2 separate regions of the Homo sapiens genome follow, and region 2 is linked to region 1. The links come from fine-mapping of genetic effects on gene expression. A gene starts in region 1. The other region holds a variant in brackets. All regions are shown on one strand. Distances are between the middles of the regions. Region 1 holds the start of ZNF467 (zinc finger protein 467). Region 2 has its middle 20 kb from the start of ZNF467.

Region 1 (5,362 bases):
CGGATGGTCTCTGTCCACTCACACCACCGCCTGCCCATGATGGGGAACCACAGCTGCTGCCACCATTCCCTCTGTCACCAAAAGCCCTGTCCTATGACACCACTCCCAGGGGTGGTTATTGAAGTAAGGAGGATGCTAAGGTAGGGAGAGACACTCATGGGAAGTGGCGGGGGTGGAGGGAGGATCCCGGGGGTGGGGGGCACGGAGTCTGATGCCCCAGAGGGTCCCTGGGCATGCGGCAGAAGGAGGACCCTTGTCAGAGGGGTCCAGGGTGGGCTGCTTACCCGTCAGCCAGGGCCCACGCCATCCCAAAGAGGAGGGCAGGGAGTAGCATGGTGCCCTCACCCCCAGGGCACCTTTGGGGAACGTGAGGCTTGGGCTCAAGAGAGGCAATGCTGCAGAGAGGGCAGAGAGGCCAGCGGTGCTCTCTCCTGCCCCACGCAGCCTCCCCGCAGCCCAGTGGCCAGTTCTGGGGGCTGTGGGGGGCTTTATTCCAGTCTCATGCCCCAGGGCACCAGCTGCCCACAACCGGATTGGACCTGCCACACCAGCCCCTCAGAGGCCAGCTCTCCCTGGAAACAGTCTCCTTCCTGTCCCCTTCCAGTGCATCTGTTTCCCTTTGTGTGTGTGTGTGTGTGTGTGTGTGTGTGTGTGTGTGTGTGTGTGTATTTTCACACTCTCAGGCACTACCACAAATTAACATGGGGCTCTGGGCAAGCCACCCTCCATTTCTGGGCCTCAATTTCCTTCCCAGTAAAAATTTCAGGGACTTCCCAGGGATGCACAAATAGGTCTCAGACTCCAGTAATTCTTTGAAATTGTATGTGCACATTTTTCTGAAGACAGTTCTATACTTTTATTAGATTCTCAAGAGGGCCATGACCCCATGAAAAGGTTAAGAGCTCCTGGGCTAAACGACTGATGGGGTCTTCCAGCCTTGAACTTCTGCCTGGATGATGCTCCCCTGCCTCCCGCCCCTCTCTTGCCCAAACTGAGGAGTCGGGGGCAGTGAGTGGGAGCACTTCTAGGGTAGCTGGGGTTCCTGAGTGTGTGGAGATGCGTGGGCAACATGTACCCTTTTCTCCAGGGTCCAGTTTCTTGCTGGGGATGATTATGTGTGGCTGGTTGGGCCCACCCTGTCTCCTTCTTCGAGGGTCTCCTAGAGTCTCTGGGGTCTAGAACTGGGGAGCCTATGCTGAGGAATGAGAGGACCCTCTGGAAGGAGTGGGCGGGGGAGCCAGCTCCCCCAGCCCTGGGGCAGAGCTAAGCCGGATGAAATAATCCGAGAATCCGGCTGGGAGGGGCAGTGACAGGCTCCACAGGGGAATCCGGGGTCCACCCTGGTCCCAGCAGAGCTCTGAGCACACCCGGACACCCGGGCTGGAATGCAGCCTGGCTCCGACTCCACACCCCTCGGTCTCCTAAACCTGATATCCCTCCGAGTATCCTGTAGAGTCATTCCACCTAGGGGAGGAAGGGGGCTGCTGTTAACCAGAGCTGGGCCGGGCTCTCCTTCTCCTGGGTTCACCATTGGTCCCAGGGCCAAAAAAGGGCCCAGAGTGAGTCTCTCAGGGGGTCACGGATGACTGGGATCAACTCCTGCTCTGGAGTCCTCAGAAAGAGCCACACGCACACCCAGACACCCCCCTTTCCTGTTTTACACACATGCACACTCTCACTGTAAGTCTCACAACACCGGCACAGGTGCTCGGCCACACCCCAGCACGCACAGTGACACATGCTACTCCAGGTGCTCCCTTCATCCTGGAGGCAGAGGAGCCTTCACAGCTGAGCCCGAGTGATGGGCGCTCTTCCAGGCACTCATCCTTGTGGTGGGCTGTGGTAGCAGGAGCTCAAGGGCCATTCACACCCTCCCCTTCCCAGCCTCACTCAGCTCTGGATTCAAACCGGGGCTGATCAGGCAGCACTGGGATTGGGAAGAGACCCGAGTTGCAGTCACCCTTTCCCGTAAAGGGGCAGAAGGGAGGAAGCTGGAACCCAGGGGTTTGGAGAAAGTTCATGGAGAGGAGACCGGGAACTAACAGTCCAGACTTCAGCATCTCCGGAGCTTTCAGGAGTGGGCGCAGCGGGAACAAGGCCAAGGAGAAACCTCGTAACCTGGGCAGGGAGGGCGAGTGGAGTCCCCTGAGGAGCTGGGGCTGAGGGCTGAGGGCTGAGGGCTGCCCTCCACATCTAACTCCAGGTGGTGTCCGGGCCAGCAGGCCCCCCAGCAATCGTCTCCCGCCCATAGAGCCCTCCCCTCTCTGCAGCCCCCTCCCAGACCCTCCCCCGGACCCCGCCCTCAGAATCTCCGCCCAGCCCCGTCCCAGCCTTGCCCCCTGGAGCTCCCGACCTGGCCCGGCCTTCTCCCAGGGGACCTGGCTTAAAGTCCTCTCCCCAGTTTCTACTTCGAAGGACCCGTTCTCGCAAGCACAGGGGCCCAGCCCTCTCTCCCGCCTGCCCCCACGGCTCCCGCGGCTGGTTTCGAATCGGGTCCTCGGGACTCCAGGCGAGGGGCTGCGGGTCTGGGTGGATCGGGGTGGAATCCGGGTGGAGAATGGGGGCGGGGCCGGAGTTTCCCAGACCGACCCCCCGGGCCGTCCTCCCGCGGGAGCGCGGCGCTGCACACCCGGCTGGCACCGGCGACTTAGAGACGGCAGCGCACGACTCGCTGGCTCCCCCCCGACACGGCCCCTCCTCGTTCCCCCAACTCCTCCCCGCCACCCCCCCACCCGTTCGCGCTCCACCTTTCCCCGGCTCCTCCCTCCGCGGCCGCGAGCACCCTCCCTTGGCACCCTTCCCCGCAGCCCGAGTGCCTGTCCTCCCCAGCCTCCTCGCCCTCCTCCACCCCCTCTCCCATCACCCTCCCCTCCCCTCCCCTCCCCTCCCCCGTCCTGAGCTCCCACTTCCACACCTACTCCAGGCTCGGAGCCTTAGGACCATCACCTGCCCACCTAAGCCCACGGTGCTCCCTCCTGGGACCCCACTCCTGAAACCCCCTGCCCCTGCCTCCCCCAGCCCGGTGCGCCGGGGCTCTCCGCCCGCTCCCTCGGTCCCTCCTCCCTTGCAGGCGCCGTTTCCCGGCTTCGACTCCCCGCGCGTCTATCCCTCTCCTCCCCGCGAAGTTTCGGGGCTGTCAGTCTGTCAGTCTTTCAGGCCGTCAGCACCCGAGCTGCAGGCGGCGAGCGCCATTGTGAGCAGAGCCGGCGGGGCAGGAGGCCCGGGCGCCTGGGTCCCCGCGGCGCGGGCGGAGCGGCCGGCCAGCCAGGTAAGGGCCGGGGAGGCTCCTCTGCAGGCGGCCCCGCCCGCGTCTCCCTCAGCGCCGCGGTTGGGTCACGGCCGGCTCCGCGCAGGTGACAGCCCCGGGGGTAGGGGCGCGGACGGCGGGCGTGGGGGAGGGGCGCGGGTCCGGGGAGGTCGGGGGCTGGGGGGAAGGGAGGGCAAGGCCGGCGCGGGCAGGGTGAGGGCTGTGGGGGTAGAGGAGACCGGGGGGGCTGGAGGGAAGGGCGGGGGCTGGGAGGGGGTCGGGCGGGAGGCAGGTGGGAAGGGGGACGACGGGCCCCGAGGGGAGGAGAGAGGGAGTGTGGGAGGGGGCCGAGGGGGAAGGGGAGGAAGAAGCGGGCGCTGGGGACCGGGCCACTCGGTAGGGGCGGGAGAGGAGGGCGCTGACAGGTGAGCCCCGGAGCTGGGGAGGGGGCCGGGACCTGGAATGAAGTCGGCGATCGGAGCTGCTTGGGAGGGCGGCGGGGCAGGGAGGTGGAGCTGAGGGTCCCGTCGGGAGGAAAACTTGGGAGGGGTGAGAAGTCCGAGGGGAGCAGAAATAGGGAGGGGGCGCCGCGGCGGAGAAGAGAGGCGCGGAGGGGTGTTCGGAGGGGAGACGGAGTGGGGAGGGCAGGGCCCGCGGGAAGGTCCCGAGAGAGCGGGTCAGCCCTAGACCCCCAGGCTTGGGGGCCGGAGGACCCGGGAGCTGGGAAGCAGCCTGGGAGGGGGGAGGGGAAGAGCGGTTCTGGGGACTGGGGACGGGGAGGGAAGCGAAGCTGGAGCCTGCTGGGGAGACAGAGGGGGAAGGGAGGCGGGGGCCTCGGAGGGGAAGGAGAGCTGCAGAAGGGAGGGGGGAGGGGGAGGGCGGTGGGGAGACGTGGGGGAGGGCTGGAAAGGGGGAGGGGAAGGGAACCGAGGTGAGGCGAGGAAAGGAGAAGGAAGGGAAACCGGGGTGGGGGAGGAGAGGAGGGAGGGGAGAGGAGAACTGGGTTGGGGAAAAGAGCTGAGAGGAGGAGGGCGGGGGTTGGCGAGGAAGGAAAAGAGGAGGGGGAAAGGAAGGGAGAGGGTGTGCAGCCGGGGAGGGAGATGGAGCGGGGGAGAACCGGGAGGGTAGGGAAAGGCAGCCTGGAGTCTGAGAGGGGGAGGGGAGCGCTGCCGCCGAGGCGGCCCGGAGCGTAGGGTCAGGGGAGGCGGTGGCAGCGGAGGGCCGACCCGGACGGGGCCTCGAGGGGTTGGCCCTGCCGGGCTCGGGCGGGCGGAGCCTGAGGGGCGGGGCCGGGGGCGGAGCCGAGGCGCCGGCCCGATTCGCAGGGGAGAGAGGGCGGAAGGCAGAGGGAGCGGGAGGGGCGGGGCAGAGGGAAGGCTGCCGGGGAGATGGGGGAGGGGAGTCTGCTGGGGGAGGGGCGGGGGAGCCGCGGAAGGCGGAGCAGGGAAGGGGCAGCAGGGGCGGTGTCCGGGCCTTGGGCAGCCCGGCACGGGTGAGAGGTGGTTTTGTGGTAGGGGTTTAGGAAGAGGCGATCATTTTCTAGCTACAAGAGGATCCTCTCGAGGACCTCCCCAAGCAGTACCCCTAAAGTGACACTCACTCCCGCCCCTGGGCTGGCTCCTATTTCACCAGCTCGGGCAGTGACAGCTGGAGGACCTGGGAGATGAAGTTTCCCACTCCCCACCCTGGGCTCCCACCCTCAAGCCTCTCCCCAGAGAATCGAATCTTGCCTGCACTTTCCCAGGCAAGGACGCTGGGGCGTGGAGTTGCGGTGCTGATGGGCCGGGGTTGGCGGTGACAGACCTGCCAGGTGAGGGGGTGGCGCGGCTGGTTTCCAGAGCTGACAGAAATCGTTTCAAGGCCTTCTTGGGCCACCTTCAAAGATCTCTTGGCTTGGCTTTCTAAACCCAGTTTCCCAAATTTCCCCCAGCTGTACCTGGGGATGTCACCTTTGGAGCTCCTGGAAGAGCCCATAGGGAGAGGTTGGGCAGAGCCAGGGCCCAGGTGGAAGCTGGCGTGGGAAAAATCTGAACAAGGCTGTCTTTTCTCCATAGGTTCTGTGGCCTGATCCCCAGGAGGAGCTACTCTGGGTTACCATGAGAGAGACCTTGGAGG
Region 2 (5,362 bases), 20 kb after region 1:
GTGAATCATGCTGCTGTGAACAGGAGTGTACATATGTCTGTTTGAGTGCCTGTTTTCAGCTCTTTTGGGTATATACCCAGATATGGAATTGCTGGATCATATGGTCATTCTATTTTTAATTTCTTGAGGAGCTGACATACTGTCTTCCACAGCATCTGCACCATTTCACATTCTCACCAGCCATGCATGAGGCTTCCAATGACGCCACATCCTTGCCAACAATTGTTATTTTCTGGTTTTTGATACTGGCCATCCTCATGGCTTTGAGGCGACATCTCAGAGTGATTTTGGTTTGCATTTTCCTAGGACCTGTACTTTTAAACACCAAGCTCCACTGTCCCCTTGCAGAGAGGGGTCTTCAGGACACACATTCAAGGTCTTCAGGGCACTCACAGACTCGCGGTTGGACCTAGTGGGTTGGTAAGAGAAGTATGTGCAAAGGATCATGGAACAAGGAGCAAGGAGCAGGGACTCACACCTGGAGATCAGGAGGGCATCTCTGAGGAGGTGAATTAACTTGCCAAGACTGTAAGCAACTGGGGACCAGGCTTCCAGCCAGCCGGGAAACCTGTTACACACACACGTGGCATTAGCATGCATCTGTCTCCTGGGAGAGGACAGTGCTGGGTGGCAGAGACCTGGGAAGAAGCATGAAGCCATGGAAGTTGGGCCTGGCTATCTGTTGCAAAATGTTCCCTTTCTAGACGCGATCATGAATCATGGAGCTACAGCTATGGGAATCTTTGTTGAGGCGTGGATGTCAGCTGTGATTTAAAATAGGTAGGAATCGGCAGGCAGAATGAAGCTTCATTTTCATAGAAAACATATATTATGGCATCCTGAATCGAGGCACTGAGAAAGGGTGGCTGATGTCCAAGCAGGTGATGTACCAAGGAGACCAGGCAGTGCAGACAGGTACAGCTCTGAGAGAACACCAGGAAGGAAGGGGGAAAGGAAGGTAGCAAAGTCTCAGGATGTGTTTATGGGGCAGGCAGATAGCAACCTGGGAAGAGGGTCGAGGCCTCACAGACTCCCAAGACACTGGCCAGCCTGGGCCCAACTCCAAGCCACAGTCTCTGTGAATTGCCTGAAAATTGTCCTGCTGACATTGCTGCCCCCTGCACACAGGCAAGGGGGGAGCTGTGCCATGTGGCACTGCGTTCACCGAAGCTGCTGTGTTCGCTTCCTGAGGCCTCCTTTACAAAGTGCTACACACTGCATAGCTTCAAAACAGCAGAAATCTATTCCTTCACGGTCTGGAGGCTATGAGTGTGAAATCAGGTGTTACACTCCCTCTGAAGGCTCAAGGGAAGACTCTGTTCCAGGCCTTTCTCCTGGCCATTTCTTGACTTATAGACACAGCACTTCAATCTCTACCTCCATCCTCCCATCACCTTCTTCCTGGGTCTCCTCCACTCTGGGCATGTCTGTGTCCCTCCTCTTCCTATAAGGACAACAGTCATATTGGAGAACGGCCCACCCTAATGACCTCATCCTGATTTTATCCGCAAAGATCCTATTTTCAAGAGGCTATATTCATAGGTTGGGGCCAGGGCTAGGACTTCAACACAACTTTTTGGACTTCTTGGGGGGCGCAATTCAATTCATAACAGAGACCTTGAGTAAAATACTGTGTCAAAGTTGGGGGAGCTGAGGCTGAAATGAGGGCTCCTGGTATTGGGAGGGAATGGGGCAGTGCAGCTCTAATCAGAGCCCATGAGAGTGGACCTGTGGGTCCAGGCAGCTCTTACCCCAGGAGCTCTTGGATCCACCCTGTGCTATGTTTTGGAGATGTGTCATATCATTCAAAAAAGCCAAAAGAGGCTGGGCACTGTGGCTGACACCTGTAATCCCAGCACTTTGGGAGGCCGAGGTGGGAGAATCACTTGAGGCCAAGAGTTCAAGACCAGCCTGGGCAACATAGGGAGACTCCATTTCTAAAAAAAAAAAAAAATTTAATTACCCAGGCATGGTAGCAGGCCTGTAGTCCTAGTGACTCAAGAGGCTGAGGTAGGAGGATGCCTTGAGCCCAGGAGTTTGAGGTTACAGTAAACCAAGATTGTATCACTGCACTCCAGCCCGGGTGACAGAGCAAGAACTTGTCTGAAAAAAAAAAAAAAAAAGATAAAACATAAACAGTTTTGCTTTGTGTTACTTTATTCTTCGTGTGATTTTTAAATTTAAATTTTTCCTAGTCCTATAACAGTAAAATAGCTTTGATAGGACAGTAAACAGTTGACTTTTAGGAGACACTAAGAGCAACTGGGAACTCAGCCTTTTTCCATCAAACATGACTGTTTTGTTTGGTGTTTCTGTAAACTGTGTTTATGTGTCGGGGGTGGTGGTGTGCACACCAGGATTTACTTGTAGAGAGACATAGATGAAGGAAGGAGACAGCCTCCCGAGGAAGATGTTGCCTATGCTGGGGAGAGGGCTTGAAGGGGAGCCGGGGTGGGGGTTGGCGAGGTGGGTTGAGGGTGGGAGGGCTTCTGCTAGTATGTTCAGGGAGACAGATGGGCCGACTGAAGGCAGACAGGTTGGTGAGTGCGTTCACGGGACATGCTGGTTTCCAGTAGTGAAAGATTCTTTCTGCTCCTGGGACTCAAGAACCTGCTCGTAGTTGTTAACTCCAGGGTCCTGGGGAGGCCACCCATGCCCCACAGGGAAGAAAACTTCTTCACTCACTTACTGATCCTTGAAATGTCTTTTAACCAGAGACAAGTCTTGTATTTCACAGTCAGAGGGAGTATGCAAGACCCCCAGAAGAGGGCGCACGGCCACAATTCCACGCTGGTGGAAGGACTGGAATCCTGTCCTTCCCTGGGAACCCTCACCTGGGGAAGGATGAGTGAGTGTCACACTGAGGCCTCCCACAGTGGAGAAGCAGCAACGGAGAAGGAGGCCCCAGGAACCCTAAAGACAGAGACTTTAAGGTCGGGAGGGTTTCACAGAGGCTTTAGGAAACAGATTTATCCAACTGCCACAAAGGACTGAGCCTTCAGGCGTGGGATTAGGTCAGCCTTGGGGCAGGGGACATTC[T/C]TGGTCAATAGCAGGACTTTGATTTACGTAACGGGCTTATGCAATGTCATTACATAACATCATTAGGGGCATCGCAAATCGGATTCTATTTCAGGCTCTACAGGAGCCAGACCCAGGGCTCCCCTCCGGCCCAGCAAGACAGGATTCCCGTGGGCCCAGTGTCCCTGTCCTCGCTGGGATTTTCTCTCTTGAGATTTCACTGTGGGGCTTCCAGGAGAACTCCTAAGGCCTCAGGATCCTCTTTCTCCAGAATGATGGAGCTCGCGTCATAGCACGCTCATCCTTTGCAGATGCCTGCCCTGCTGCCCCTGCTGCCCCTGACCCTCCCAGTACTGTCCCCCCAAGCCCAGGCCAGTGGGCAACCTTCTCCTATCAGGTCCCCCTCTGACTTCTCCCCAACTCCTGCTTCCCCATCTATCCTCCAACTGTCAGGCTGATCTTCCTTATAACTTATTACGCCCCAGCTTAGAAACTTCTGCTCATCTGAATATCCAGAGGCCTTAGCGGTTGACACATTGTGCCACATTATTCTGTGTGTCCCTCTGGGGGTGGCAAGCTTCCCTGGCACAGAGCAGAGTGCCCACCTAGCCAGTGTGCAATACATGTCTGTTCTAACTCAAGGCTCTCTACAGTTGGCCCCAACAAACTTTTGAAACTTATTTTCCAAACCTCCTGGGTACACACCCTCCCTTACACCAAGCGGTCTTGTTCCTGTCTCCGGGCCGTGTGGTCCTTCCTGCCTCCTGCCCCGGCCTCCCTGGGCTTCCCCATCACAAAGTGCCTACTGCCCTGACTTCCCTTTTAAATCCTACCTATTTTTCGAGCACAGATGGGGGCCACCTCCTGGGGGTGTCCTTCCCCAATGATCCCAGCACACAACAATCTCCTCCTTTAAGCTGTCATGGTTCCTCTGCTTCCCACCTTACCAGATGTCGCCTGCAGTTGTTGGGTGTGTCCGCGTGTGCCTAAAATGTGTGAGTGCCTCCTGTGACTGAGGCTCCTACTTAATTCCCCTAAGCCCCCTTTGGTACGGGGTTGCTGTCCTCACTTCTCAGGTAAGGAAACCGGGGTTTAGAAAGGTTACACCCTTGTAGGAGCCTCATCTCTCCAGGCCCACTGGGAACATCTCGAGGGCGGAAGTCGTGTTTTTTTGTCTTGGTATTTCCAGGACCTGGCACATTTGAACACTCACAACACGTATGTTGAATTGTACAGGTGGAAGAGGAGCCTTTACAAGGCCTACCCATCTCAAAATCCCTCCCCTACCGGATAATCTGAGTGCCTAAAATCCACCCCTGCAGAGTTATAGCTGTGAACTAAGACAGGGTGACAGCAAACACAAATCCCAAAGTTAATAAATTCAGCGATCTATTTTTTCATGTGGCTGCTGAGATGGTTAAAGCTAAACTTACTGCTCAAATGCAATTATGTGAGTTAGATATCTGGTATGTTTCACATACTCTGCATGTCCCATTTAAAGCCTCACTGTAATATACCACCTTCGTTGGCCGTTACTGCAAAGTATATGTATTAGATGAGAAGAGAGCTACCTGAACTAAGAAGAGAGCTGAGAACCACACTCAGGAAAGCAGACAGAAAGGGGAAAGCAGGAATGTCAGTGTTGGAGAGGCCTGAGAATTTTCTAGGCTGTCGGTTCCTAACCTTTAGCAAACCACCAAGCATTTAGTTGTTTAAAGCTCCCTTCAGAGTAATGTGCATAGAAACAATGATTTGCACGTAATTTTAGAGGGTATGTGGACACCCTCTTTAAGCCCCTCTGTGGGCCCACATGGTCCGCAGAGCTGGTTTAAGAACCTCTGCTCTCATCCTGCATGACAGAACGGAGGCCTGGAGGAGAGAGGTTCTGCTGGGGCCTGAAGGGTGGGAGGGAGGGAAAGAGGAAATCCATGATTTTGCAGGGCAGGCCCTGCTGGCTAGTTTCCGGTTCTCCTTGTCATCTTGTGCCTGGGCTGCCCCTGGCACAGGAAGAGCCTGTGTGGCCAGAGGAACCTGCTTCCCCTCCACCCAGCTCTGCATGCCCCTCCCTGCTCAGCGGGCTGGGGAGGGTGGAGGTCCCAGGGTCCCACAACTAAGGTGGGCTCACATTCTGGGACCAGATCAGGACTCACAATTACCCCACAGGAGACTTCCACCCATCCCTCTCCCCAACCCAGATGGAAGCACACTTGCCTAGCTGGGCTGGAGGCAGATGACACACCTAGGGGGCCTGCCGGGGGCCTGGGTTGGGAACAGAAGCCCCAGCTCTGCACTCTGAGAGCTGTCCCTGAGTTATCCCCCACCCCTACCCCTGTGCAAAGGATGC

Evidence for each region.
Region 2: its variant is fine-mapped to the expression of ZNF467 in blood mononuclear cells (TOPMed, PIP above 0.99). The same link has a PIP of 0.9 or more in monocytes.

What each region holds. Positions count from the first base shown.
Region 1 is chr7:149,771,014-149,776,375 of GRCh38, reverse strand. ZNF467 (zinc finger protein 467) reads left to right here and starts at 2,788. Exons shown (of 5, transcript NM_207336.3): 1 at 2,788-3,268; 2 at 5,302-5,362. The coding sequence starts at 5,344. It also overlaps the pseudogene SSPOP. RefSeq lists silencers at 3,166-3,345, 4,282-4,431, 4,442-4,761, 4,772-4,861.
Region 2 is chr7:149,751,252-149,756,613 of GRCh38, reverse strand. No RefSeq gene overlaps it. Among named protein-coding and RNA genes, the nearest start is that of ZNF467, 20 kb to the left of the region's middle. The variant T/C (reference allele first, on the strand shown) is at 3,040.